Homo sapiens: one gene and its partners. The protein of the gene in region 1 purifies or fractionates together with the protein of each later gene. This does not show direct contact. Each region holds a gene or a part of one and is shown in the gene's direction. Other genes may lie near its edges.

Evidence for each region.
Region 2: the proteins of PPA2 (region 1) and PCCB purify together in Homo sapiens (affinity purification with mass spectrometry, with the first as the bait; one large-scale study listed by BioGRID). This does not show direct contact.
Region 3: the proteins of PPA2 (region 1) and TANGO2 fractionate together in Homo sapiens (co-fractionation; one large-scale study listed by BioGRID). This does not show direct contact.
Region 4: the proteins of PPA2 (region 1) and NENF fractionate together in Homo sapiens (co-fractionation; one large-scale study listed by BioGRID). This does not show direct contact.
Region 5: the proteins of PPA2 (region 1) and SCPEP1 fractionate together in Homo sapiens (co-fractionation; one large-scale study listed by BioGRID). This does not show direct contact.
Region 6: the proteins of PPA2 (region 1) and GLS purify together in Homo sapiens (affinity purification with mass spectrometry, with the first as the bait; one large-scale study listed by BioGRID). This does not show direct contact.
Region 7: the proteins of PPA2 (region 1) and CAT fractionate together in Homo sapiens (co-fractionation; one large-scale study listed by BioGRID). This does not show direct contact.

What each region holds. Positions count from the first base shown.
Region 1 is NC_000004.12:105,467,030-105,471,200, reverse strand, and holds part of PPA2 (inorganic pyrophosphatase 2, mitochondrial isoform 1 precursor), read left to right. Parts: intron 1-4,171.
Region 2 is NC_000003.12:136,326,837-136,331,007, forward strand, and holds the end of PCCB (propionyl-CoA carboxylase beta chain, mitochondrial isoform 1 precursor), read left to right. Parts: coding exon 1-74; intron 75-318; coding exon 319-419; intron 420-797; coding exon 798-896; intron 897-1,921; coding exon 1,922-2,021; intron 2,022-3,068; coding exon 3,069-3,190; 3' UTR 3,191-3,333; downstream 3,334-4,171. UniProt on the Homo sapiens protein: This is one of the 2 subunits of the biotin-dependent propionyl-CoA carboxylase (PCC), a mitochondrial enzyme involved in the catabolism of odd chain fatty acids, branched-chain amino acids isoleucine, threonine, methionine, and valine and other metabolites.
Region 3 is NC_000022.11:20,058,573-20,062,743, forward strand, and holds part of TANGO2 (transport and Golgi organization protein 2 homolog), read left to right. Parts: intron 1-2,601; coding exon of another isoform or gene 2,602-2,663; exon of another isoform or gene 2,664-2,917; intron 2,918-2,923; coding exon of another isoform or gene 2,924-2,957; coding exon 2,958-3,111; coding exon of another isoform or gene 3,112-3,115; exon of another isoform or gene 3,116-3,134; intron 3,135-3,922; coding exon of another isoform or gene 3,923-4,002; intron 4,003-4,171. UniProt on the Homo sapiens protein: May be involved in lipid homeostasis.
Region 4 is NC_000001.11:212,435,581-212,439,751, forward strand, and holds part of NENF (neudesin precursor), read left to right. Parts: intron 1-4,171. UniProt on the Homo sapiens protein: Acts as a neurotrophic factor in postnatal mature neurons enhancing neuronal survival. Promotes cell proliferation and neurogenesis in undifferentiated neural progenitor cells at the embryonic stage and inhibits differentiation of astrocytes.
Region 5 is NC_000017.11:56,994,922-56,999,092, forward strand, and holds part of SCPEP1 (retinoid-inducible serine carboxypeptidase precursor), read left to right. Parts: intron 1-59; coding exon 60-97; intron 98-585; coding exon 586-714; intron 715-2,040; coding exon 2,041-2,134; intron 2,135-3,046; coding exon of another isoform or gene 3,047-3,138; exon of another isoform or gene 3,139-3,463; coding exon 3,464-3,577; intron 3,578-4,171. UniProt on the Homo sapiens protein: May be involved in vascular wall and kidney homeostasis.
Region 6 is NC_000002.12:190,886,950-190,891,120, forward strand, and holds part of GLS (glutaminase kidney isoform, mitochondrial isoform 1 precursor), read left to right. Parts: intron 1-4,171. UniProt on the Homo sapiens protein: Catalyzes the first reaction in the primary pathway for the renal catabolism of glutamine. Plays a role in maintaining acid-base homeostasis. Regulates the levels of the neurotransmitter glutamate, the main excitatory neurotransmitter in the brain.
Region 7 is NC_000011.10:34,469,540-34,472,837, forward strand, and holds the end of CAT (catalase), read left to right. Parts: intron 1-1,418; coding exon 1,419-1,502; intron 1,503-1,828; coding exon 1,829-1,894; 3' UTR 1,895-2,521; downstream 2,522-3,298. UniProt on the Homo sapiens protein: Catalyzes the degradation of hydrogen peroxide (H(2)O(2)) generated by peroxisomal oxidases to water and oxygen, thereby protecting cells from the toxic effects of hydrogen peroxide.

The sequences.
Region 1 (4,171 bases):
ATTGGACCAGATGATCATTTTCCAGACTGCTTAGTTGAACACAAGCATCCCATGGTATATTATTAGGTTTTCGTTAAAACAGAGGGTTTCATGGTTTAATAAATTAGAACACTTCCCATTTTATTACTTTTTTGAAGAAGAATTTGCCTATTTAAGTTCTGGAAAATTCGGATGTAACTTCTCCAAAAACTGAACCACAGAGTACTTATTTCTCAGAACATTTGTTAACATCTTAGTGACATCAGGGTTATGATTTCTGCAACTTCCAGAAGCAACTGTGCTGTAACAGTTCTAAACTAATAGTCAAACCACTTAAGTTGTAGTCCTGACTTTACCGTCTTGGACAAGTCACTCGACTGAATTAACCAGAGGCATCCCTTACCTTCAGATGACATCCGGTAGCTCAGTTTCTCCGTAAATAAAATGGGGATAGCACTAGTAATTTTATAGAATTGCTGTGGCAGTTAAATGAGACTATGTGTGTAATTATCAGTGTCTCACACGTGATAGGTATTTAATAAATGTTATTTATTTTTCCCTTTTGACTTTAAGACATTAGACTAAAATCCTTATTATTAGATTCTGTGAAGGGAGAAAATAAGGTGATGTGATTGATTATTTTGAAGTGTTCCTGTTAATTTATAGGTTTCAGAAGGTTTTTTGTTGTTGTTGTTTATTCATTTTATTTTTATTTTTTTGGTTTGTTTGTTTGTTTAGAGATGGGGTCTCATACTTTTGCCCAAGCTGGAGCACAGTGTGCAATCACGACTCACAGCAGCCTTGACTTCCCCAGCTCAAGCGATCCTCTCACCTCTGTCTCCTGGGTAGCTGGGACTACAGGCATGCACCACTGTGCCCGGCTTCCTAGGTCTTAAAGTTTTAATGGGTACTTGCAGTCTTTTAAATTAACTGTGAAATCATAATGAAGTTAGACTCACTTATATTGAGCCAAAGACCTAATGCTGCATGCCAGTATTCCTTTGATATCTTGCGTGTTTTTGTTTGTTTTGTTTCGTTAATAACTTGAAATTTTATTTTAGATTTCATACTGTTCTCATAGGATAGGGAAAAGCTATGCTTTCCATAATTAGGAATTTTGTTATTATGGGATAGGCAACTGGTTTACTTAGAGAAATAGTGCTGTGGATAATTCAAGTTGCTTTTATTTAGTCTGGGAATGAACCAAGCAGTTCTTTAAAATTAATTTGCTTTGTCACTTATAGTAAGCATGTGCTTGTGTTGAAATTACTGTAGGTTTTCTTTATGTCATTTGGGTAGTAGGAGGAATCTGCCATTGAAAGTGCTGTATCTTTGGACTTAAAAGAGAACTTCCCGTGAATAATCCACAAAATTTGTTTGAGTCTTAAATATGAGTTTCTGTAACTTTTTAAAGTTGGCCTATATCATAGAACTTCAACTGATATAATGGAACACAATGGGTTTTGTGTGAATATAGAAAAAGTATTTTATTTGATTTTTCAGTCCTTAAAACCTTAAACGTTTTCTATATCAGTGCTGTGAAATAGGAATTGTGTGATCTATATGGAACAGAGGAAGCATTTTTATTGAAGTTTTTAGGCTCCTTTACATTTCTTAATCTTTTTATCAGAAAATAAAACAAAGTTAGCTTTAGTCATTGCTGAAGCTTCCAGTAAGAATCTCTATAAGTGGTTTTGTAGTCGTGTGTAATCATATGTTGGTATATGGCATACATTTAGCTGTCTGGTATAGATACATAAAATTAGGTATGGTTTTCACATTCCATTCAATTTTCTCACTTGCTCTAGTGTAAGTAATAAACTTTCATCCTGATACAACTTGCTCTTGTGAGAGAAAGAATCACATAGATAACTTAGAAAATGCTAGAATAAAATCTGATTTCAGACCAGTTGAAGGGAGAATTTTGACCACTGTTTGGCAATATCGTGTAGATTGATGGGCCTGATAGAGGTTAGCAATTAATGCCTAAGGACACAATCTGATTTTTGACGACAGTGAAATACCATGGCAAAAATGACACAGTGACTACAATCATTTATCTCTTTTCCCCTATAATAAATATCCTATTAAAGTGATAGTAAGTGAGGATAAGAAAGGGTAACCCTAAAACAACAGATAAGGAGCCACCAAAGCTTGAGATTTTGAAATATGTATAAAAGATTAAAAAACCAATGGAGATATGGTTATTAATGAAGCAGTGTGGAAGAAGTCCCAGCTTAAGTATATGTGTTCAGGGGACGTAGTTTAGGGAAAAGCCGAGCTGCTGCAGAACCTCAGAGAGGTTGTGGGTGTGTTGATATAAGATAGGATAGAGAGTTAGATGGATGTAGAACTTAACACAGGGGGATTAGTTTAAGTTGTACTACAAATAGTACACAAATGTTTCCCATGCAGGTCTAATGCATGAGGGTTGTGTTAGTTCCAACTGTAAAAGTGAATGAAGAGCTGAGAGGGAAGTAGGACCCCTGATGGTGTTGGTGCCCCAGCAGTACTCTGCATGCTGGTATTTGGGGACCCCAGCATAACAGCCAGCCTCCTACCCATTCATCTCTGTGGGAACACAGAGTTCCCAGTGATTTTTTCTAGTCTTTTTAATATAAACCAAATAGTCAAGGATCACCTAACTTAGGCTTTCATCGCTACTGTTCTACCAACTGCTTTTTGTCAGGGCTACCTGTCACCTCCATGCTGCGACCTTAATGGTCAGTTTGAAGTCCTCATATGACCTATCAGCAGTACTTTTTACAGTTCATCACTTTCTCTTTGAAACACTTTTTTTGTCTTTCCCAGAGGAAACTGCTTTCCTCTGGGATGCACTTTGTCTTAGTTTTGATGCTTCTCCTTCACATTCTCCCTTGCTGAACCTTTGTCATATTTCCGAACTCTAGCCTTTGAAATGCCCAGGGCTCAATCCTCAGCCCACTTCTCTATCTATACTGCCTCTCTAGGGCAGGTGTTGGCAAAGTTTTCTGTAAAGGGCCGGATAAGGAATACTTTAGGTTTTGCGAACCATTCAGTCTCTGTCACAACTACTCAGCTCTGCCATTGTAACATACAGCCATGGACAGTAAAAGTATGACTGTGGTTATGTTCCAATAAAACTATATTTACAAAAATAAAACCAGGCCATGTGACAGATTTGGCCCATAAAGCCAGAGTTTGCTGACCATTGCTGTTGCTCTGGGTGATCCCATCAGGTCCCATAGTGTTAGACGCTGTTTATGATTCCCCAATTTATAACATTAGCCGCATCTCTTCTTGAACTCAGAATTTACACATCCAGCTTTCTACTCTGTATTTCTACCTAAATGTTTAAGATACAACTCAAGATTAACAGCACAAAACAGAACTCCTGACTCCCCACCCTCACCGAACTTGTTTCTCTCTTTAGTTGCTAACCCATAACCTGGGCATTCTTCTTGTCACCTTTTACTCTTATCCCACAGCTAACTCATTAGCATATTTTTTTGAAATGTACCAAAAGACAATTCCTTCTGTCCACTTCCACCCTTCTCACTTTCTGTTTCACCATCATCTTTCCCTTGATCAGTTGTAACCTCCTGATTCTTCACCCTGCTTCCACCCTTAGCCCTGTATAGTCTACTTTCCATACAGCAATCACCTTCATCCTTTTAAAATGTAAGTCAGATAATGTACAAGCTCTGCTGAAAATGCCAGTGGCTTTCCATTTCACTCAAAAAATTTTTTGAAATATGTACCATAGCATGTAAGGTCCTACTGGATCTAATACTGGGCTCCTCTCTGAATTCATTGCTTGCCACTTTTCCTTTTGATCAGTGTCCTCCTGCCATCCTGGCCTCCTTGCTGTTTCTCAGACATGCCATGTATGTTCTTTCCTCTGCACACCTGTGCTTTTTATGCCTTCAGTGCTCCTCCCTAGAGGTCTACTTGATCTCTTCCCTCACTTCATTCAGATCTGTGCTGAACTGTTACCCACCAGAGAGATCTTCCCTGACCATTCAATATCAAATATTACTCCTTCTGTTACAGTAGGTAGCTAGTCAGGCATGAGCAGGGCAGAAGAGGGCTCCCCTCCCTCAACACACACCAGGAATGACAGGCAAACATCAGGTGATGGTCAGGCAGTTGTTAACTGTTTCTCTAAAATATTAATTGGTTGCAGCCTGCACCAGGGAAAGGCAGTCTCCAA
Region 2 (4,171 bases), on another chromosome or scaffold:
TCGTTTTGTCAGATTCTGTGATGCATTCAATATTCCACTCATCACTTTTGTTGATGTCCCTGGCTTTCTACCTGGTAAGTTTTTGACAGAGTGGGGGCTAGGAGAGTTGCCTTTCCCAGTAAGGTGCCCACTTTATTTGGAGATCTTCTTGCAGAACTCCCCGAGGACTTGTGACTTCTCCATGTATTCTGGGTGTCCAGAAGATAGGGCTGTGTAAGGAATGGCCCTCTCCAGAGGTGGGAAAGACCTCACAGCTGAGAGTGGCAGGATAACCATGTGAGGACTTGTGGGTATCTAGTAACTCTTCCTCATGTCTAGGCACAGCACAGGAATACGGGGGCATCATCCGGCATGGTGCCAAGCTTCTCTACGCATTTGCTGAGGCAACTGTACCCAAAGTCACAGTCATCACCAGGAAGGTGAGGACCTCATGTTGGAGGCCATGACCCTGCTCACTTTCCTACAGCATAGCCGTGGTGGGAGGTCTGGCAGAGTTTTACCAGGGCTGGAAGGAGTACACCTTGCTCATCCTTAAAAAGATCTCTTGAGGATGTTGTTCCCAGCCCCGCAGAAATGTCTGTGCTTTTTTAACACAGGGGAACTGAAGGCAGTAGTGGGAAAAAGCCAGAAAAGATAATGAGCATTAACTTTGAAAGGTCTTACAGACCGTGGGCCTTCAGGAGCCCAGTAGGGCTATTCTTGTTCTTTGTCCCAATTTTACCTGGTTTCCTGGGGTCTTTCAGGGACATGATCTGGCTGTCTCAGGCTCTAACACTCAGCATTTGGATCTGTTTTAGGCCTATGGAGGTGCCTATGATGTCATGAGCTCTAAGCACCTTTGTGGTGATACCAACTATGCCTGGCCCACCGCAGAGATTGCAGTCATGGGAGCAAAGGTGAGGGCCTCTTGCTTTTCCCTTTCTGGGTCCAAGGACTCGACTCTACCAGCGAGAGCTCAAGGCATAGCTGGGAAATGTTGGAGAGAGGCCAGGGCCCCTAGGTTGAGCCAGGACTGAGGTGAATGGGACCTAGACCTTGGTAAGTCTCCCTCTTGGGGCTCCAGAGATAGCTCTGCCTCCTGTCCTATACCCTTTCTTCAGGCCCACGCTGGTGTCTTCATGCCAAGGTGGGTGCGGCAGGTGAAAGGAAAGTGAGAGGGGTCCAGAGTGGTTTTGAGATTGTAAGTAAAGGGGGCAAAGGGTTGAGTCAACTGAAGTCACCTTCAGAAGTATTGGACATTCTCCCAGCTCCACCTCAGCTTCCAGGGAGGGCCCCAGAGCTACTCTTTTAAGCTCATAAGAAGCTAAACTGTAGGTCCGACCCTAGTGACGTTGGACAAGGTACTTCCTATTGCTTGACCTATTCCTCACTCCTCCCTGCTTTGAAGTAGCTATTGTGGTCGAATCAGATAACTTCCAGGTCCCCTAGAGTTGACTTATAGGTGCTCTGACTTGAAGGCCAATCCTTCTAATTTCCAGTTCAGTCTGGTCGCCTCTGGCCACCGAATTGTATACTCAGGTCTTAGGGTACCGAAAAAGGGAAATAGCACATTTAATTCCCCTTGATACAAGACCATGGATTTAATAATGGAAAACAGGGCTAACATCTTTGGCTCAAAGAAATATGATGAGTGCAAATGGAGATGGTAGAATGGGCTCTGGGGAGAGAAGCTACTGGCTTTTGCCTGACTGCCCCTTATTGGGGCCACAGGGAAGCATCACATCCCATCATGCAGCCCCTTGTGTCATGATGGTCAGCCCCAGGCAGTTCCTCCCTCTATGCTATGGCCTTTAGAGATGGCACTTCCCCTCAGTACACTGATTTACCAAGAAATTTGCACCCACACACAGTGATAATGAGTTGAAGGAGATCTGTCCAGGTTGGGACGACCAAAGATGTTCATGAACTCCTCTAATCACAGGGCGCTGTGGAGATCATCTTCAAAGGGCATGAGAATGTGGAAGCTGCTCAGGCAGAGTACATCGAGAAGTTTGCCAACCCTTTCCCTGCAGCAGTGCGAGGTAGGGGACTGTGGTGAAGAGGGCAGCTTTGTTTGTTTGGTCAACTTGCTCATTCTTTCTCTACAGAAATTGTCACATAACTGCCTTTTTGCCTTTGCAGTCTAATCTGTTGACTAGTGAGGGTTGGGACTGTCCCTGGGCAGTCATCACTTGGACTAAGGACTGTGGGACAGGCTGCTTTGGTAACCACAATTAAAACAACATTGCCAAAGTGTATTAAATTTCTAGGTGTTGTTCCAGTTGTCTAGTGCTGTGCAGAAATTCACCCTATAACTCAACAGCTTAAACTAACCACCGTTTCCCCCACTGCTTATGGTTCTGTGGGGTCCACAATTTGGTCTGGGCCCAGCTGAGTGGTTCTTGTGCTGGTCTTGCCTGGGATCACCCACACAGGTATAGTCATTCTGTGGCTTGACCGGGGCTTGACAGTCCAAAATGGCGTCACTTACTTGGTAGTTGCTGTTAGCTAGACTCACTCCCCACGTGGCCTCTCACCCTTGAGGAGGCTAGTCCAGGCTTCCTTACATGGTGTCCCGAGAGTAGCAAGGGGGCAAAGGGAAACTGAGGCCTAGATTTGGAAGTTGCACAGTGTCATTTTTGCCACATTTTATAGGCCAAGAAAACTCAACAAGGTTAAGCGAAGGAATACAAATCCACCTCTTGAAGAGAGAAGTGGTAAAGTCACATTGCAGGACTTGTGTACAAGGATGAATTGTTATAGCCATTTTTGAAAACCTAGATGTATTTTCTTTATTTCCTATTGAATTCATTGTGGCAGGATGGAGGCATTGGAGCAAGCAGGGTATAGGGAGGGTGTCCGATTTTCCTTTTCTTGCCAAGTGCTCCTAGGCCAGAAGTTGGGGAGCTGTCAGAACAGGCCAGCTCCTGGGATACAAGGGGGAATTCACAGGGCCTACCATCTCTGTATCAGGTTGGGCACTGCTTATACTGCTGGCCCCAGGGATGGTGCCCAGGCTGAGCAGAAGGTTGAGGGGTGGCATCATCTCGGGATGCAGATGATCCACTCCCTTTTCTGTGCTTCACCAGGGTTTGTGGATGACATCATCCAACCTTCTTCCACACGTGCCCGAATCTGCTGTGACCTGGATGTCTTGGCCAGCAAGAAGGTACAACGTCCTTGGAGAAAACATGCAAATATTCCATTGTAAACAAATCAAAGGAAAAGAAACCAAGAACTGAATTACTGTCTGCCCATTCACATCCCATTCCTGCCTTTTGCAATCATGAAACCTGGGAATCCAAATAGTTGGATAACTTAGAATAACTAAGTTTATTAAATTCTAGAAAGATCTCTTTTGTGCCTTACTGTAAAATTATTTACTTTTTTAAACATTTTAAGTTGTATTTTTTGAGCATAAATTCGATTTTTTTAGGTGGAAATCTGAAAAATCAATACAACTAGAAAGAAAAATAGTACACAGTGTTATCATCTAGAGCTGATTTTTATTTCACACCTCTGGGTATTGTTCTTTTTCCTCTCGAGTTAGTTTTTTTATCCATAGGTGAGATATATAGTAAGTTTTTAAGGCAAAGTATTTCTTAGGCTTAAGTTTCCTTATTTTAAAAATAGGGTAATATGCCCTATCTATCTCCTAATTCCTCCATGAATTGAGGATTAAATGTGATGTTTGCAATTGTGGTATATGTGTTTAGCAGTACAGATGCTCAATAAGGCATAGCACCCTATGTTGACTCAGGTTATTTCCAGAAATGTGTTCTTAAAATTAAAAAAAAACTTTTTAATTGCGAAAATTTTCAAGCCGATAGAAATGTTGCAAGAAGTGTATTGTATCCACTTCACCTAGATTCTCCAGTTGGTAACATTTTCTCCATTTGCTTTATTTCTTCCATACGTAGATATATCTAATAATATATAATATGCATATAAGATATATCTAATTATATTATTAATATAATTAATGTATAATTATATCTAACATGATTATATATATTTATATATTTATATTATGTATTTATACATTATATAATTATATAATTGTATAACATATACAATATAATTATTTAATTGACCCCTTTGAAAGTCAGTTGCAGATTCGTGACCCTGTGTTCCTAGAAACTTGTATCTCCTAGGAACAAGGTCCTTTGTCTTACATAGTCTGTCGTTCATG
Region 3 (4,171 bases), on another chromosome or scaffold:
CGGAGCTTGCAGTGAGCTGAGATCGCGCCACTGTACTCCAGCCTGGGCGACAGAGTGAGATTGCATCTCAAAAAAAAAAAAAACAAAGAAAAACTCACCAGCATGGCTAAATGATAGAAAGGAGAGTTTTATTTGCCATATCAGTTTGCAGACCCGGAAGAGAGAGTCTCTAGCATGGACTGAGGTGCTCTCTTTGAAGAGGGGAAGGGCAGTTTGAGTTTTATGCCTCCCAAGGTCCATATCACACAATAGAGTCATACATATTCAGCAGGTTTGGGGAAAAGCCATACATATTTATGAGGGGACCCGAGAACATATGCAATAGATAAACATACATGTAACATACATCCCATGTTCACTTTGGGGCAGGGTTTTAGCATTAAAATGAGGTAGAATCTGGATCTTTCCATCAGAAGGTGAGCTCTAGGACACAGTTGGAGTGCAGCCTCTATGAACTGCTGAAACTGGCTTATGGTCTGTAGTTGCTTATCAGAAAAGAGTGTTTGAAGGCTGGTTCTCTGTCCAGTCAGGGTTGTGGTGGTCTGGGCTGTCAAGAGTTAGGAGGGTCTGATAACGTGTGTGATCTCTACTGTTGTGAGGGAGTTTATCAAGACTGTGGTTTTTCTTGTAGCTGTAGGAATTTAGGGAGTTGCTGAGACAGCTGCCCTGAACCCTCGAGCCAGTTGGTACTTTTTGTTTCTTCCCTTTATCCATTAATGGACACTTGAGTTTTTTCCACCTTTTGGCTGTTGGAAACAGTGCTGCTCACAGTGTGACCTCACAGCATTTGTGTGGTCATATGTTTTTATGGCTCTCATGTGAATACGTAGGAATGGAGTTGTTAAGTCGTATGGTAACCCTGTTTAACCTTTTGAGGAACATCCAAACTGTTTGCCAAAGCAGCCGCAGCATTATACATTCCCACCAGCAGTGTATGCGGGTTGCAGCTTCTCTGAATCCTCACCAAAACTTGCTATGTTCTGTGTTTTTGATGATAGCCACGATAGTGGGTGTGAAGTTGTGTGGACTCGTGGTTTGGTTTGCGTTTCTCTGATGGCTATGATGTTGAGCAGCTATTCTCATGCTCGTTGGCCATTTGTATGTCTTCTTTGGAGAAATGGTTATTCAGACTGGGTTGTCTTTTTGAGTTATAGGAGTGACTTATACATTCATTCTAGCTACAAGTCTCTTATTTAAAGCACAAAGCTTAAAATTTTTAAGTCCTATGTCTCTCTCTTTTTTTTTCTTTTGTTGCTCATGCTTTTGGTTTCTTATCTAAGAAACCATTGCCTAATCTAAGGTCATGAAGCTTTCCCCAATACTTTCTTCTTAGAGTTTTATAGCTTTTGCTCTTTCACTTAGGTCTTTGGTTTGACTTAAGTTAACTATTTTTTTTTTTTTGAGACAGGGTCTGGCTCTGTCACCCAGGCTGGAGTGCAGTGGTGCAGTCATGGCCCACTGCACTGTCAACCTCCTGGGCTTAAGAGATCCTCCCAGCCGGGCGCGGTGGCTCACGCCTGTAATCCCAGCACTTTGGGAGGCCAAGGCGGGTGGATCACAAGGTCAGGAGATCGAGACCATCCTGGCTAAACCGGTGAAACCCCGTCTCTACTAAAAATACAAAAAATTATCCAGGCGTGGTGGCGGGTGCCTGTAGTCCCAGCTACGTGGGAGGCTGAGACAGGAGAATGGCGTGAACCCGGGAGGTGGAGCTTGCAGTGAGCCGAGATTGCGCCACCGCACTCCAGCCTGGGCGACAGAGTAAGACTCCGTCTCAAAAAAAAAAAAAAAAAAAAGAGATCCTCCCTCCCAAGTAGCTGGGACTGCAGATGTGTGCCACCATGTTCAGCTAACTTTTATGTTTTGTAGAGATAAGGCCTCACTATTTTGCTATTTTGCCGAGGCTGGTCTTGAACTCCTGGGCTCCAGTGATCCTCCTGCCCCAGCCTCCCGATGTGCTGGGATTATAGGAGTGAGCCACCTCTCTTGACCTGAGTTAACTTTTGTGTATGGTGTCAGGTAGAGTCCAACTCCCTTCTTTGCCCATGACTATGCAGTTCAATGGTCTTCCATGTTGTTCATGATGGAAAAAGCACTGTGACACCTGGGGCTGGCGGCTTGGCTCTGGGGGCCCCAGCAGAGCCAGGCTGTCTCCCTGGGAAATGCCTCGGCCAAGATATTCTCCTGGAAGTCTGACAGGGAGAGGGTGGTGTCTTGGTCTCCCTGGTGCATCATTTGGGGTGCTTGGCTCCCATCAAGCCCACCCCTGCTGCCCTGGCCTCTAGAGAAGAGCCTCTGAGGTGAGGTGCTTCTCCACCTCAAGTCCCTGCCCTTCACTTTCTGTGACATGAGAAACCCTTTTCCTGTTGGCCATGCCTTCTGCCAACACTCTGGGAGCTTGTTCAGAGTCTGTGCAGAGCCCCCCGGCTCTCCTAACCTGGGGCCTGGCTGGTACGCAGAGGTGGGCCATGCTCTGCTGAGGCCCAGCCTACACCTGTGCCCACTGTGTGGCGCTGTTGGGGGTTCCCCAAACAGGGACATGATTGTGGTGGGTGCCTCCTGGCCTCTGGTGGCTAATTCTCCCACTCTTGAACTTCTCAGGTGGCCCCCCAACCTGGCGTGAGGTGAAGAGGTTCCCTCTTGGCTGTCCCCTTTGCCTGTGAGATCTCAGGTTGCTCATTTCTTATTCATCCATCCATCGAGGCTGCTGGGCATCTGTGCCTTGTGGTCTCCTGTGGGTGCCCGCTTCCGCCTACTGCTGAGTTCTCCTCTCCTTGCCATGCCATCAGGTCAGGAATGAGCATGGGGAAGGAGCTGGAGCATGGAGCGGCTTGGCCTCAGTCTGGCCTGATTTCATGGTCCCCAGCTGTACCCCGTGTTAGGTGGGTGGCAGGTGGCAATTTGCCCTGACATGGCACAGCAGGGCCTCTGCATGGCCCGCTGATTGCTCCTCACAGGCACCTACGGGCTGAGCAACGCGCTGCTGGAGACTCCCTGGAGGAAGCTGTGCTTTGGGAAGCAGCTCTTCCTGGAGGCTGTGGAACGGAGCCAGGCGCTGCCCAAGGATGTGCTCATCGCCAGCCTCCTGGATGTGCTCAACAATGAAGAGGCGTGAGTGGGCGGGTCCTGCTGGGGTGAGCCCCAGTGTCCCGCCACCAGGGCAGAGGGAAAGGCAGGCCCTGCTGCCCCGGGAGGCCCATGGAAGTGGCCAGGCTGGGTCCCCAGCTGCAGGGAAGCTGATGGATATCCTGTCCTCCCTGCCTGTCCCCTTGAGCCAGCTGAGGTTTCCAACACCAGGGACTTTTGATGACAGAAGATGGGCCCAGGCCCAGGCCCAGGCCCAGGGGAGGCTCAGTGCACCCAGAGGCTTGATGCAGCCACGTGGGGCCCAGAGCAGATGGATGCTCCCCTCTGCATGCCGAGAGCTTGTGGGAAGTTCCAGAAGATTCTAGACACTCAGCAAACCCAGGCGGAAGAGACACATCATGGAAATGAGTGGCTAGGGTCAGCACGCTCAGGGTTGATGGGCTTCCCGCAAGCGGTCTGTCCCCAGCGACCCTGGGCTGAGTGCTGGGCAGGGACTTGCAGTTCCGGGAACTGCCTGGGTGTAGGAGCTCCCACCCACTTCCTTGCCCGTAGGCCTCAAGGCCCCTCAGGGGCCAGGCACTGGGGTCTTCGTTGCCCCAGCCGGGGGTCCTGGTGCTTGCCATGCCAGCCTTTCTCCCACTGGGCGAGATGCCCCACCCATCCCTCGCTCCCCACCCAGGTCAGACCACTGCCCTGCCCAGGTGATCCAGCGTCCACTCCCACCCTGTCCAGCTTGCCCCCTTCAGAGAAGCACCCATGGACCATCTCCCACTCCTCCCCCTGGGGCCCCTTTCTGCCCCCTGCCTACCCTCCTTCTCCTCTGGGCCTCTGATAGGCGGCCTCGTCCTTCAGCCTCAGCATCGCTGCCTCACTGGAAGAGCCCCACCTGGGCATGCCCAGCAGCCCCTCCCAGCTGTAAGTCCACACAGCCCCCATCAATGTGCCATCTGGGGCAGGCCGAGGACCGGCCCTGGCTGCCCTCACTGATGGCTGGAGCCCCGATGCTAGCTACAATGGCTGGCTTGAGTGGACTTCTGTCACAGAGGCAAATGCCCACAGGGCACCTCTTGGGGCAGGCAGGGAG
Region 4 (4,171 bases), on another chromosome or scaffold:
TCTATTGCTAAGCCTGGAGTGCAGTGGCAGGAACACAGCTCACTACAGCCTCCTCCTGGGCTCAAGCAGTCCTCCTACCTCAGCCTTCCCAGTTACTGGCATTACAGGTGTGCACCACCACACCTGGCTATTTTTTAAATTTTCTGTAGAGATGGGGTCTTCCTGTGTTGCCCAGGCTGGTGTCAAACTCCTGGGCTCAAGCAACTCTTCCACCTCAGTTTCCCAAAGTGCTGGGAATACACGTGTGAGCCTCCATGCCTGGCTCAAAACTTAATTACTAATAGCCTACTGTTGACCACAAGACCCAAGAACATAGTCGATTACCACGTATTTTGTAAATGTATTATATACTGAATTCTTACAGTAATGTAAGCTAGACAAAAGAAAGTGTTACTAAGAAAATCATAAAGAAGAGAAAATATATTTACTATTAAGTGAAAGTGGATCATTATAAAGGTCTGCATCCTGAGAAGGAAGAGGAGTGGTTGGTGTTGCTATCTCAGGGGTGGCAGAGGTGGAAGAAAACCCACATATAAGTGGACCCATGCAGTTCAAACCTGTGTTGTTCAAGGGTCAACTATATATAGATAGATAAATGGTTTATCATAAGGATTGGTTTACACGATAGCGGGGGCTGGCTGGGCAAATTGGAAATACATAGAGCAGGCTATCAGAAGGGGCAGGCTGGAAGCCCTCAGGCAGGAGCAGATGCTGTAGCCCATGGGTCTTTTTTTTTTTTTTTTTTTTTGAGACGGAGTCTTGCTCTGTTTCCCAGGCTGGAGTGCAGTGGTGTGATCTCAGCTCACTGCAACCTCCGCCTCCCATGTTCAAGCAGTTCTCTACCTCAGCCTCCCGAGTAGCTGGGATTACAGGCGCCCACCACCATGCCCAGCTACTTTTGGTATTTTTAGTAGAGACAGGGTTTCACCATCTTGGCCAGGCTAGTCTTGGACTCCTGACCTCGTGATCCACCCGTCTCAGCCTTCCAAAGTACTGGGATTACAGGCGTAAGCCACTGTACCCAGCCTTGTTAAGGTCTTTCGATTATGAGATTAGGCCCACCCAGATTATCTGGGATTATTTCCTTATATAAAGCCAATTGATTGTAGATGCACAGCAATATCTAGGTGAGTATTTGATTGAATAACTGGGTACAGTAACCTGTGCAAATTGACACATAAAATAAATCATCACAATGGTTATAATAAGAGTTCCTACTTGGCTGAGTGTGGTGGCTCACACCTGTAATCCCAGCACTCACTTTGGGAGGTCGAGGCAGGAGGATTGCTTGAAGCCAGGAGTTTGAGACCAGCCTAGGCAACATAACAAGACCTCACCTCTACCAAAAAAAAAAAAAAAAAAAGAGTTCCTACTCTAAGCAGGTGTTTTGTGAATGCCTGCATTAAATGAGATGGTGGTGTGCACAGGCTTAGCGTAGGCCTGGAATAGGGCTTAGCACCGTAAGTCTTAATAAATGTTAGCTACTATTATTTTTTATTACCTTATTAAAGATACAAGCAAGAGGCATTATAACAGGTCCACGGTCCTTTCATGCACTACAGAAATCTAATAAACTCTGAAACCTAGACATTTTTGTTTTTCACAAGTCATTTGACAGAAAAACCCAGCTTGATCTGAAATCACTTGATGACAGAACCTTGTTGGAGCTGCTATGAGTCTACGTTAGTCTTTATCCCATTTACTGTGAATGTTCATGTTTCACTGGAGAAATACTAACATACTTGATTATGGGTGTTGCCTTGGACCTCCCTAGAGGTATTGCATAATATATGGTATGTTCCCCATAACACCTTTCTAAAATCTGACATATTTTCATATTGAAAACATGTCTGACCCCCAAGAGTTTCTGCTGTGGGATTGTGGACCTGTGTAACAAGGCTTTCTGAAACATCTAGCAATGAGTGACTTGCTTCTACTAGATATAAAAAAACCTTCTTTCTTGGATGAGAGCCAAGGCAGACCCGCCTCTATCAGTCACACATCCCACTGTGTGGTTCAAGGTGAGAGAGCTCAGACACCCACACAGGGATTTGCGTAGTTTCTCCAGTGGCAGCTTCAGATGGGAAATCCGTGAAGCATGGGTGTCCTGGCTGTCAGTGTCTTTCACAGAGCCACACTGTGTTCTGGATCTACTGCACCAAGAGCCAGTTCTTTCCTTTTAGGCATTGTAGGGCCTCAGAGTGATCCAAGGCTCCCTAAATCATTCACATATGGGAATAGAAAAATCTTTGGTATACATTAGTCCTCTTCGAATGCTTGCTGAAAATCTGGGCGGGGTGTGGTGGCTCACACCTGTAGTCCCAGCAGTTTGGGAGGCCGAGCTGGAAAGATCGCTTAAGCCCAGGAGTTTGAGACCAGCCTGGGCAACGTAGTGAGACCTTGTCTCTATTTTAAAAAAGAAAAAAAATCTGGACAGCATCTCCTTGGTGCTTCTTTAGAACTCCATTCTCCCAGTAATTCTAGTAAGGGTTGTACAGAAGAGGTGATTTTGAGGACCTCTTATGTAGATAACAGGTTATAAAGTGAGTGTGTTGAACAAAATTGAAAATAGAGGAAAAAAAGGTAGTGTGTTCCAGAGTGCCTTTCTTTGGCGCTTGTTTTCTTCAACTCCTGTCAAAATTGCCCTGATAGGTAGAGATATTGCTTGCACATGTTCACCGGTAGCTTTTGCCTTGTCACACACCTGTTATGATAGCAGGGTTTCACTGTCTACAGATTGCAGGCCAGAGATTGGTATTCAAGTTTTCAATAAGGAAGAATTGCCCTAGGAAGGGCAAAGGCTTAGAATCAGACAGGTATGAGTCTGAATCCTGACTTTTTATTTACCAGCAGAGAAACCATTGACAGGTTATGTAAACTCTAAGCCTCAGTTTCTTCACCTACAAAATGGGTATAGTAATAACTGCCTTACAAGATTATTTTATTTTAGTTTAGTTTTTGAGACAAAGTCTCACTCTGTCACCCAGGCTGGAGTGCAGTGGCTGATTTTGTTTTGTTTTGCGTGTGTGTGTCTGTATTTTTTTTTTTTTTTTTTTGGAGACAGAGTCTTGCTCTGTCATCAAAGCTGGAGTGCAGTAGTGTGATCTTGGCTCACTGCAACCTCCGCCTCCCGGGTTCAAGCAATTCTGCCTCAGCCTCCCCAGTAGCTGGGATTACAGGCACCTGCCACCACACCCGGCTAATTTTTGTATTTTTAGTAGAGACAGGTTTTCACCATGTTGGCCAGGCTGGTCTCAAACTCCTGACCTCAAGTCATCTGCCCACCTCAGCCTCCCAAAGTGCTGGGAGCCACCATGCCTGGCTGTTTCTGTGTCACTTCTATTCCTGTGTCTGCATTTATACTCCCAAGCCTTCCACCCACCCTCCACCTTCTCAGTTGTCATTTCCCAGGCCTGAGAGTCTGTGCCTGGGGGTTGTGCTATCCATGGATGTTCATCTACACTGGGTCAGAACTCACCACCACAGCACGCTCTGTTTACTGATAAGACCATTCCTCTGCATGGCATATGAGGTATCTATGTCACTCTGAGGCCTCAAAAATGCTAAACATTCTTTTCTTCCCCTATAATATGACTTCCTCTTCGCACTTACACCTTCAAGTAAGTAGTTTAAGGAGGAGATAAAAATTTTACTGTTAAAAAAAGGAGATTGCTGGGTGCAGTGGCTCACGCCTGTAATCCCAGCACTTTGGGAGGCCGAGGCGGGTAGATCACCTCACGTTGGGAGTTCAAGACCAGCCTGACCAACATGGAGAAACCCCATCTCTACTAAAAATACAAAAAAAAAAAAAATTAGCCAAGCATGGTGGCACACGTCTGTAATCCCAGCTACTCGGGACACTGAGGCAGGAGAAATGCTTGAACCCGGGAGGCGGAGGTTGCGATGAGCCAAGATCATGACATTGCACTCCAGCCTGGGCAACAAGAGTGAAACTCCTTCTCATAAAAAAAAAAGATTGTTTGCCGGGCGTGTTGCCTCATGCCTATAATCCCAACACATTGAGAGGTCAAGGCAGGCAGATTACCTGAGGTCAGGAGTTCTAGACCAGCCTGGCCAACATGGTGAAACCTGTCTCTACTAAATATACAAAAAAAAAAAAAAAAAAAAAATTGGCCAGGCGTGGTGACACACGTCTGTAATCCCAGCTACC
Region 5 (4,171 bases), on another chromosome or scaffold:
TGTCTTTGGAAAGACAGAGGTATGACATACTTGATTTGTACATATGTGATTTCCTTTAGATTCGGTGCTCTCCTGGGGACCTTACCTGTACAGCATGGTAAGTAGATACACATCTGCACCCTCTGGGCAAACAGCCCAGCAGATCTCTTCTGGCTGTGACCCCAGGAAAAGAGATGCTGGATGAGTTTGCCTATGTGGTTGACACTGCTTTTTAGGGACTAGTCATCCACATAGAGTTGGAGACCCAAAGCAAGAGCTCGCCTCAGGGACAAATTGAAAGAAAATCAGCACACATCACTTTTTTCCAGATATAAGAAACACATTTTTCCAATGCCCTAAATTTTTATTACAAAAATTTTCAAATATGCAGAAATGTTGAAAGATCACGGTGAATACCTACTTAGGTTCAGTTAACAATTTGCTGTGTTTCATCCAATAAACATGTGGCTTGTAACAATACACTTTGATATGTGAGCTCCCGTTCTCCTTCCTTCCCCTCTTTCTCCTACCCCTCCCTAACTGCAGCAATACCAGATTGACGTTCCCAAGTAAAGTGGGTCTTTTTGCTCTTGGTTTGCATTCCAGTCTCTTCTCGAAGACAAAGGTCTGGCAGAGGTGTCTAAGGTTGCAGAGCAAGTACTGAATGCCGTAAATAAGGGGCTCTACAGAGAGGCCACAGAGCTGTGGGGGAAAGCAGAAATGATCATTGAACAGGTAAAAAGGGGAAACACTCAGAGGCGAGCCTGCTTGGCTTTTTCTGGTGGGTACAGGGCCCATGGTTGGTGTTGTCAAACTTGGAGTCTACACTGAGGCTCCCCACATATCTGCAAATGATTGCATGCTGGATAATAAATCTCTTGGGTCTAAGCAGTGATGTAGTGGCTCCTTACAGAGTCAGAAAGCCACCCAGGCCTGCAAGACTTGCTTGTCCTTCACTAAATGTATGGATTCTATTAAAAAAAAAAAAAAAAAAGACTGTCTTGCAGAGGTGAGTGTGTGGAGAAAACACATTCCCTTATTGGGACCCTTGCCAAGCAACATTCTGACTCCAGAGAGCCAGAAGGAAAGAATGCGTAGGCTAAGGACTTGGGAGTGTAGGCCCCTCTGCAGCTCTGTTCTCCCTGTAAATTAACACCTAGGCCCTTGGTTTTTTCCCTGCAGGGCCTGATCACTGCTCATATGAGATGCTCACCACTCCAGGGAGAGTGGGCTGACACAGCTGGTTTCTGAGACTTCAGAGCTGCATTTCTTTCTTTATTTTATTTTTTACTTTTTCTTTTTTCCTCTATTTATTTATTTATTTATTTATTTTTGAGACACTCGCCCAGGCTGGAGTGCAATGGCACAGTCTTGGCTCACTGCAACCTCTGCCTCCTGGGCTCAAGTGATTCCCCTGCCTCAGCCTCCCGAGTAGCTGAGATAATTGGCACGCACCACCGCACCCAGCTAATTTTTGTATTTTTAGTAGAGAAGGGGTTTCACCGTGTTGCCCAGGCTGGTCTTGAACTCCTGACCTTAGGTGATCCACCCACCTCAGCCTCCCAAAGTGCTGGGATTATAGGCGTGAGCCACCGCGCCTGGCCTCTTTTTCCTTTCTTTCTTTTTTATTTTTTTTTGAGACTAAGTCTGGCTCTGTCACCCACACTGTAGTGCAGTGGCCCGATCTCGGCTCACTGCAACCTCTGCCTCCTGGGTTCAAGTGATTCTCATGCCTCAGCCTCCAGAGTAGTTGGGACTACAGGTGAGCACCACCACGCCCGGCTGATTTTTGTGTTTTCAGTAGAGAGGGGTTTCACCATGTTGACCAGGCCGGTCTCGAACTCCTGGGCTCAAGTGATCCACCCACCTCAGCCTCCCGAAGTGCTGGGATTACAGACATGAGCCACCAGGCCCAGCCAAAGCTCTATTTCTTTCTGATCCAAGCAGATATACAAAATTAAACCTGTCCTTGGATAAGATAAAGAGCCATGTGTCCTTCTGTTTGGCAGCTTTGATGATAGGAAAATGAAACAAACAGCCAAATAAACTTTTATATTTCAGAACACAGATGGGGTGAACTTCTATAACATCTTAACTAAAAGCACTCCCACGTCTACAATGGAGTCGAGTCTAGAATTCACACAGAGCCACCTAGGTGAGTGAACCTTGAAGTTATTAAAGTCCCTGCCTCAGCCTCCATGCAAAAAGAAACCTGTTTATTAAAAAAAAAAAAAACTTTATTAACATATAATTTGCATACCATAAAATTAACTCACTGTAAGTGGTTTTCAGTATATTCCCAGAGTTGTGCAGTCATCACTACAATCCAGTTATGGAGCATTTCTGTCACCCCAAGGAGATCCCACGTGTCTGCTTGCAGACAGTTCTCATTCCCACTCCCAGCCACAGGCAACCACTCATCTGCCTTCTGTCTCTCTAGATTTTCCTTTTCTGAACATTTTATATAAATACAATCGCACAATAGTTAGTCTTTTGCACTGGCTTCTGTCACATAGCATGATGTTTTTGAAGTTTAGAAACCAGCTTCCATACACCAAATTACAACATCAGTTCAAGACTGAATTTAGTCATCTTTCAGCCAACCAAGAAGCATATAAAGGCTGCAGGATACCCTAGGTTCCACTTTCTAGATGATTCTCTTTGGCCGTTCTGGAGAATCCCAATGGCCCCCAAGTCTATAGAATGTATAATCAATACTATTAGGTTGGTGCAAAAGTAACTGTGGTTTTTGACAGGTTTCAAGAATTATTAACTCACAACTAATGAAGCATTATTTCCCTTCCCACCCAGTTCCCTACCAACCCCTTATTTTGAACCAATTTTGACAAATCTATTTTTTCCCTTTTTTTTTTTAAGAGATAAGGTTTCACTCTGTTGCCCAGGCCAGAGTGCCATTGAATTTGAGAAATTCTGCCATTACTTTTAATGGCAAAAACCGCAGTTACTTGTGCACCAACCTAATAATAAAGCCTCTCCACTTTCAATGTGTTTCTGACTTCCTTCCTCCCGCTGGGGGTGAATCAAGGTGACGCTTTTCCTTTTCCAGCTGAATCTGAAACCCTCCCTCTTGCTGTGCAGCATCCCCAGCAGCTTGGTAAAGATGTCCTCATGGCCAGGCGTGGTGGCTCACACCTGTAATCCCACCACTTGGGAGGCTGAGGCGGGTGGATCATGAGGACAAGAGATCGAGACCATCCTGGCCAACATGGTGAAACCCTGTCTCTACTAAAAATACAAAAATGAGCTGGGCATGGTGGCGGGTGCCTGTAGTTCCAGCTACTCGGGAGGCTGAGGCAGGAAAATCGCTTGAACCCAGGAGGCGGAGGTTTCAGTGAGCCGAGATCGTGCCACTGCACTCCAGCCTGGAGACAGAGAGAGATTCTGTCTCAAAAAAAAAAAAAAAAGATGTCCTCTTGGCCTTACTTCCAGCCCTTTGACTCACTATCTACCAGTTTGGTTTTAGTTTGTCTTTGTCAGCGCCACGTGAGACACCTACAACGAGATGCCTTAAGCCAGCTCATGAATGGCCCCATCAGAAAGAAGCTCAAAATTATTCCTGAGGATCAATCCTGGGGAGGTACTTATATGACCTAATTAAGTGCCGTTTGTACAGTTATGGGGAGAAAAGAGGTGCAAATTCAGAGACCTGAATTTGTAGGGTGGGTTTTGTTGTTGGTGATGATAGGTTATAGGTAAACAATATTACTATCCACGTTTTGTAGGTGAGCAAATAGATACAGAGACAGTAAATGACTTGTCAGGGCTGGATGCAGTGGCTCACGCCTATAATCCCACCACTGTGGGAGACTGAGTTGAGAGGATTGCTTGAGGCCACAATTAAGCAACATAGTAAAGCCCCATCTCTTTAAAAAAATAGAAAAATTAGCTGGGCATGGTGGCATGTGGCATATAGTTCTAACTACTTGGGAGGCTGAGGTGGGAGGATTGCTTGAACCCAGGAGTTTGAGGGTACAGTGAGCTATGATTATGCCACTGCTCTCCAGCCTGGGCAGCAGAGAGAAACCCTGTTTCTTAAAAAGGGGAAAAAAAAGACATCAAAATTGATTCAAAATAAGGAGTTGGTAGGGAGCTGAGTGGGGAGGGAAATAATGTGTAATTGGTTGTGAGTTAATAATTGTTGAAGCCTGGTATGGGTACATCGGAGCATTGT
Region 6 (4,171 bases), on another chromosome or scaffold:
GGCTGTACTACTTCCTTCTTGTGATATTTGAAATGAAGAAAAATTATGACCATATAAGCTGAAAGCCTAATTATAGAATTTGTGTGAGGGAGCTCAATCATGTTAAATCCTATATAAATTAAGGTTATATTTTATAGTTGCCTGTCTGTGCCTTTTCACCTTTAAGTCATTTGCTAGTAAGAGAAATGCTTAAGAAAGGTGAGTAAACAGATGTATTTATAAAAATAGTTATTAATTACTGATATCTCTCAGTGAGGTACATAGCTTTCACATAGAGATACTGTTAGTACAGTTTTACCCTGAAATCTACTCAGGTGCAAAATTGCTTTGGTTATGAAACACATTACTTGTGAGTCATCACTGCACTTAGTGATTTTCTGACCCCCTACAACGTAGTAGAAGCAAAATGTTAATGTACCTTGACTTCCATTTGGGAGTGTCCTCTGCTTGATATGTTAAATTCATTATAAAGAAATGTTTATAGTAAAAGCATTACTTTCGAAACATAGAACTGTAGATGTTGCATAATGAATAAAACTGATAGCTTTCAGGATTAAGAAATATATTTTTGCCTATTTATTTCTGGTACAGGCTTCTAAAAAAGATTTTTAAAATTGTCTTCTTGATGAGGATATTTTGAGTGACATAGACCCGTCCTTCAATTCTTGATGGTAAACTTTCTGAAGAGCAATTTTTAAGCTCTATGAGGAACTTACAAAGTATTCATACCTTTTTAGGAATCTAAGTTCACAAAATAAACTGAAGTGTTAGAAAGATTTATTTCCTATTATTTTTGGTACAGTGTTATGCATACTAGAGAAAAATGGAGAAAAACGCATGTTCAACATTAGTGGGATAGTTAAGTAAATTGTGGTACATTCATATGAGGGTCTCTTATTTAGTCATTTAAAATGTTTGCAGGTACTTTTTAGGATATAAGGTAATGTTATAACGGCCAAAAGTTAGAATACAGAATTTTCTATGCAGTATGATCTCAAGCTATTTAAAAAGCTCAGAAAAAGTAATAGAAGGAAATAAGCCAAAATGACATTAGCAGTTGTGGTTTATGAGAACGAGCATTGTTTTTCCTGCCTCCTTTTGTTACTTTTAAGATTTCCCCCCCATTATAAGTGGGAAACGTCTAAAACAGTAAAAAACATTCCATAGTTTTGAAAATCAAAGGAACCACATCTGTTAAGTTTTGAACTTGTAAATCTCTACTGTCTACTCTTCTAATATCCTGATTCTGGTTGTATAAGAACAGTAAGCACCATTACATTGAAAGAAAAGTATGAAAATAGGTTATGTATGAATTTGCACAGCTCCTGTTTATCAGCATTGTCTAATCATATTCACTGGTACCCTTAAACATCAAACTTTAAAAATTTAAAACTATGCTTGATATATCTCCCTAGTAAATGTTACATATTTCTCTGCCATATTAAAACATTGTAATCAATAGAGTTTAACATTTCTTGTTCAACTTATGTGTATTTTAAGGATGCATTATTATACTGCACTGTAATACAGTGATGCTGTAAGACAAGTGCTGGCACACTTTCCCTGAAAGGCCAAATAGTAAATATTTTCAGCTTTTGGGGTTCTCTAGTCACTACTACAACTTCTCAGTTCAGTGGTGGTAGCAAAATAGCTGCAAACAATAGGTAAATAGATGTGGCAGTCTTCCAATAAAACTTTATTTACAAAAAGAGGAGGTCCCTGCTGTAGTTTGCGTAGCCCTACACTAAAATATATTTATTGGTAAGTTCTCTCATGCCTTGATTGGTTCTGCTTTAACCAGTACTCTTAAGGGTGGGTTTGTTCTTTTGTGGATTTTTGTATCTTGTATCAGTTGACTGTTCTTCATGTCTCTACTTTAGCTATCCTCCTTCACTCTTACCTTCTGTATCCAGTTCTGCTTAGCTTTTTCAAAAAATTGTGGTTAAATATACATAACATAAAAATTACCACTTTAACCATTTTTAAGTTCCCTAGTTCAGTGGCATTAAATACTTCTGTTAGTTTTAGAACCCAGATGAATATGCTAATGTGTAAAATAAAAGTATGTAAGTTGTGAGTGAATAAAGTTTATGATCTCACTTTAGTGTAGTGATTTGGAGGACATCTATTTTTAGCAACTCAAAAACTGAGAATTAAGCTTGGAAGTAACTTTAAAGAACATTTAATTCCAGCTCATTTTACGTATTATATAAGCTGCCCGCAGATATTAAATGACCTAAACAAGTTCAGACAGTATTAGGACTTGTTTTGATTTTTTATTTTTCATCTATTAGCAGCAAACTAATTCAATTTATAGAGTTAATTTTTTTAGATTGAGGATTATAAGAGATCTTACAAACCCTTCTCCCCAGCTGCTGCTTTCTTCTCTTCTGTTACATACTCCCTATAGGTTGTTGTTATTCATCTCTACCTGAATACTGCCTTCACAAGGGAGTTCACTCCCTTAGAAGGCAGCCCATTCCGTTTTCATAGCTGTTTCATTTTTCCTTATGTGTGGCTGAAGTTTTTCATTAACTTCTACCTATATATGTTAGTTATTCTGAACAAGTTGTCTATAGTGGTATCAGAGTGATTGCAGTGACAGAATTCATATAGTATCTGTATTATTCCATCTAGACTGATATATTAAAGGATACTTGGCTGAAGAAATGAGTTATTGGAAAAACTAACAGAGTTGGATGTTATAGACTTGATCTCCCCAGATCCTAGTCTTCCCACCCGAGACAGCCAGACTGCCTTTTGGGTCAAACTTCTGAAGTTGTGCAAACGTATGGACAAATTACCATGAGCTGACAGGGGCAGCCTGACCATTTCCTCACATAAAGTGGCTTTTGTGCTTTTTACTTTGGTGTGCTATTAAATGAATTTGTGCTATAAAGTCCAGTCAAAACAGCAGCACTAATTGAATATAATCTCATCTTTGCTTTGACAGGATGCAGTTTTATCAAGGCAGACCAGTTTAGTTCTCTTATGTGCATTTTGGTTAGAAATTTATTATTGTTTAAGAATTACAGATATTATTCCTAAAATAGAGTGCTAACCACTGAGAGCATGAGGTGGCAGAGCAGGAAGAGTCTGGAACTGGGAACAAAGGATGAGCTTTGTAGGACTAATTCTGGTCCAGCCACTTAAGATTTATGTGACATTGGACATTCTGCTTGACTTGGATACTCTTAAAACAAAATTTTTTTTAAATTTAAAATTTAAATTAACATTTTCTTTCTTTTTTTAGAAATGGAATCTTGCTGTGTCACCCAGGCTGGAGTACATTGGTGCCATTATAGCTCACTGCAGCCTTGAACTCCTGGGCTCAAGCAGTCCTCTTGCCTCAGTCTCCCAAGTAGCTGGGACTGTAGGTGCATGCCACCACACTCTTCTAGGACTCTCTTTTATCTGTACACTGGGGACAATTAACCCACCTTAATTTACCTCATAGGGTTTTAATATGATAGAAAGTGAGAGTCCTTTTTTAGCAGTAAAGCCTTAAAAGATGTAAGTTTTTATTTTTAAATTCAACCAATGATTAGCCTTGGGGCAAAATCACTTGGATGATAACTAGAATTTGTCAATTTGTTAGACTTAACATTCATTCTCATATGCTATTTTACTATATGGTCAGCCACCATCAATTCAACTTTCTATCTAACAGGTTTATTAATCTGCCAGTTTGCTGGTGTTGATAGACGGTTGTTATCAGTCAGCTCACTATAAATTCAAAATGATACACTGATTTTAAAACAACCCTGAATTATCATCTGAAGGATCATTATTCTTAAATGAAGGCATAAAGACTAGCAAATCCTTTTGTATTGTGTTATTATTAGGCCTCATTTTTTTTAATCCCACTTGAAAAGACAGTTTTTCATTGTCTCATAGGTTTACCATACTATACTATGTGTTTTAAGAGTTATGCGAAAAAAAAAATAAGAAAGACTTGACCCCAGCCTTGAAGCTTTATAGTTTGGGGAGGTTAGGTAATATGAAATGTTATTTAACAAAATAAGACCATACAGTTGGTTTCAATTATTTTCCTCTGTTCATTTTGTAGTTCTTAGTAAGGATTTTTTTTTTATTTTCTTCCTTTCATTTGATAGTTTTTTATTTATAAGATTTTTGAACTGATGAAGATGAGTTTGCCTTGTTGCTCCTA
Region 7 (3,298 bases), on another chromosome or scaffold:
TGGGCCCGTTTCTCAATGTAAATCACTGTAATTTGTTAAGCGCTTACTCTGAGGTCAGCTCTTTTCATGCAGTAAATGCACCTCACTTCTCAGCATTTTTCTCACAGCATCCTGTGAGGTAGGTTGTGTGGGTTTTTTTTTTTTAAGATGGAGTCTTGTTCTGTCACCCAGGCTGGACTGCAGTGGCATGATCTCGGCTCACTGCAACCTCTGCCTCCTGGGTTCAAGAGATTTTCCTGCCTCAGCCTCCCCAGTAGCTTGGACTACAGGCATGCCCCACCATGCCCGACTAATTTTTGTGTTTTTAGTAGAGATGGGGTTTTGCCATGTTAACCAGGCTGGTCTTGAACTACTGACCTCAGGTGATCCACCCATCTTGGCCTCCCAAAGTGCTGGGATTTCGGGCGTGAGCCACTGCGCCTGGCCTAGGTTGTATGGGTTTTTTTCCCCGACAATAAGCAATTCTGTAATTCTTTGACAGTAACTGTGTGTCCTATAACTCAATTCAATTCTAACAGTAGCTCCTGGAGCTAGAGTCAGAACCCAAAGATTTAGGGGTCATTTCCCACTTTAGATAACAAATGAGGTACCCTGGCTATGCACACTTCTGCAGATTCTGACTGCAAATCAAACCCTTTCCTCAGGTTTGATAATTTGCTGGAAAGACTCATAGAACTCAGGAAAATGATTTACTTATGATTACCAATTTATTATAAAGAATACAACTCAGGAATAGACAAATGGAAGAGGGGCATGGGGGAAGGCCTCGGAGCTTCTGTGCCTCCCTGAGTGGACCACCCTTCTAGCTCCTGGATGTGTGCACTAATCCAGACACTCCCTGACCTTGCCAGTTGTGGGTTTTTCTGGAGGTTTTATGACATAGGCATGATTGATGAAATTATTGGCTATGGGTGATTGAATACAATCTCCAGCCCCTCTCCCATCCCTGGAGGTTTGGGGGTGGGGCTAGAAGTTCTAACCTTCTGATCGCGTGCTTGTTCTTCCTGGTGTGAGCCTCCATCAGGAATCTATGTAGGCCCCCATGAATCATCTTAGTAGTATATAAAAGACAGTACATTCGAAGGGTTTTAGATCTGTGTCAGGAATGGGGGACAAAGACCAAATAGTATTTTTAAAATTATACTGATTAGGTGTCATTTTCTTGCGCATTTCGGCAGAGGGACATAAGCTCAGTAAGTTAAGTGACCTATCCGAGGTTGCTCAGCCAGTATATGTCAGAGTGTTCACTGGACCTGCATCTTAACTCTGAGGCTGGCATTGTTAAACACCTGTAGTACTGCCTCCTGCTGAAACGTCTTTCCTCCCCTATGGAATAAACACTGGGAAACCACAGTCCCTGGGGAGTGATATAGTAGGGAGTTAGAGTAATGCTTGCATTTATTTTCCTTTGGCCTTAGGTCAAGAACTTCACTGAGGTCCACCCTGACTACGGGAGCCACATCCAGGCTCTTCTGGACAAGTACAATGCTGAGAAGCCTAAGGTAAGCTGGGAGCAGCCTGGCCATGCAGAGGCTGTGTGTGCTGGGTTGGAGTAGGCATGACTTAGTTACCACTTAGCATTACAGTCTGCAGGGGCCATTACCTGCCACTGTTAGATTTCTTAGGCAGCTGTGCAGAAATTCATTTGAGAGATAAAGAATTCACTGGCAAAACACATACTCTTCATTTTAGCGCTGGGCAATTTAAGACAGTTAAAGTGAATGAATTCTGAATTATTATTTTCATTTGCATACATATTAAAACTGAGTAAATATCACGTTGCTGCCCATGAGGTGATTAACCTGCTCATCTTGTTCTTTTAAAACAGAATGCGATTCACACCTTTGTGCAGTCCGGATCTCACTTGGCGGCAAGGGAGAAGGCAAATCTGTGAGGCCGGGGCCCTGCACCTGTGCAGCGAAGCTTAGCGTTCATCCGTGTAACCCGCTCATCACTGGATGAAGATTCTCCTGTGCTAGATGTGCAAATGCAAGCTAGTGGCTTCAAAATAGAGAATCCCACTTTCTATAGCAGATTGTGTAACAATTTTAATGCTATTTCCCCAGGGGAAAATGAAGGTTAGGATTTAACAGTCATTTAAAAAAAAAATTTGTTTTGACGGATGATTGGATTATTCATTTAAAATGATTAGAAGGCAAGTTTCTAGCTAGAAATATGATTTTATTTGACAAAATTTGTTGAAATTATGTATGTTTACATATCACCTCATGGCCTATTATATTAAAATATGGCTATAAATATATAAAAAGAAAAGATAAAGATGATCTACTCAGAAATTTTTATTTTTCTAAGGTTCTCATAGGAAAAGTACATTTAATACAGCAGTGTCATCAGAAGATAACTTGAGCACCGTCATGGCTTAATGTTTATTCCTGATAATAATTGATCAAATTCATTTTTTTCACTGGAGTTACATTAATGTTAATTCAGCACTGATTTCACAACAGATCAATTTGTAATTGCTTACATTTTTACAATAAATAATCTGTACGTAAGAACAGAGATGGTATTTTCTTTCTTTCGACTCCATATGTAACTGTAAACTGCTACCAGACTCTTAATTTGAACATCATCATTTTCAGATGTTTACCCTTAAAAATGGAAATGCCAGTATCTCGAGGACTCCATGTTATTTGTTTAAATCTATAGCCTTTGGACAGCCTTCTGAGACACTGATAAAATAGCAAATGCCCCAACTTTGAAAATTACTTAAATCTCTTGTCCATTTGCTCACTTACCTGTGATTGACTTTTTAAAACAAGGGCTCAGAACCACTGGTCACTTTCCTCTTCCTTCTTTTTAAAGCCCATATTTGCCTATCATGGTTGAAAATCACATGGAAGACTTTAAAGATGAGTTCTGAATACTAAATGAAAATTTGTTTTCCTTGAAAATCTTTATTCCGTTCATATTCAAAACCAGTTTGTGCCGGGTGTGGTGGCTCATATGCCTGTAAACCCAGCACTTTGGGAAGCCAAGGCAGGAGGATCACTTGAACTCAGGAGTTTGAGACCAGCCGGGGCAACATGGCGAAGCCCTGTCTGTACAAAAAATACAAAAATTAGCCGAGTATGGTAACGCATGCCTGTAGTCCCAGTTACTAGGGAGGCTGAGGCGGGAGGATCTCTTGAGCCCAGGAGGTTGAGGCTGCAGTGAGTCGTGATTGCACCACTGCACTCCAGTCTGGGCAACAGAGTGAGACCTTGTCTGAAAACAACAACAATAACAACTAAAAACAAAAAACCAAACCAGTTTATACTTTCAGGAGTTCCTGAGT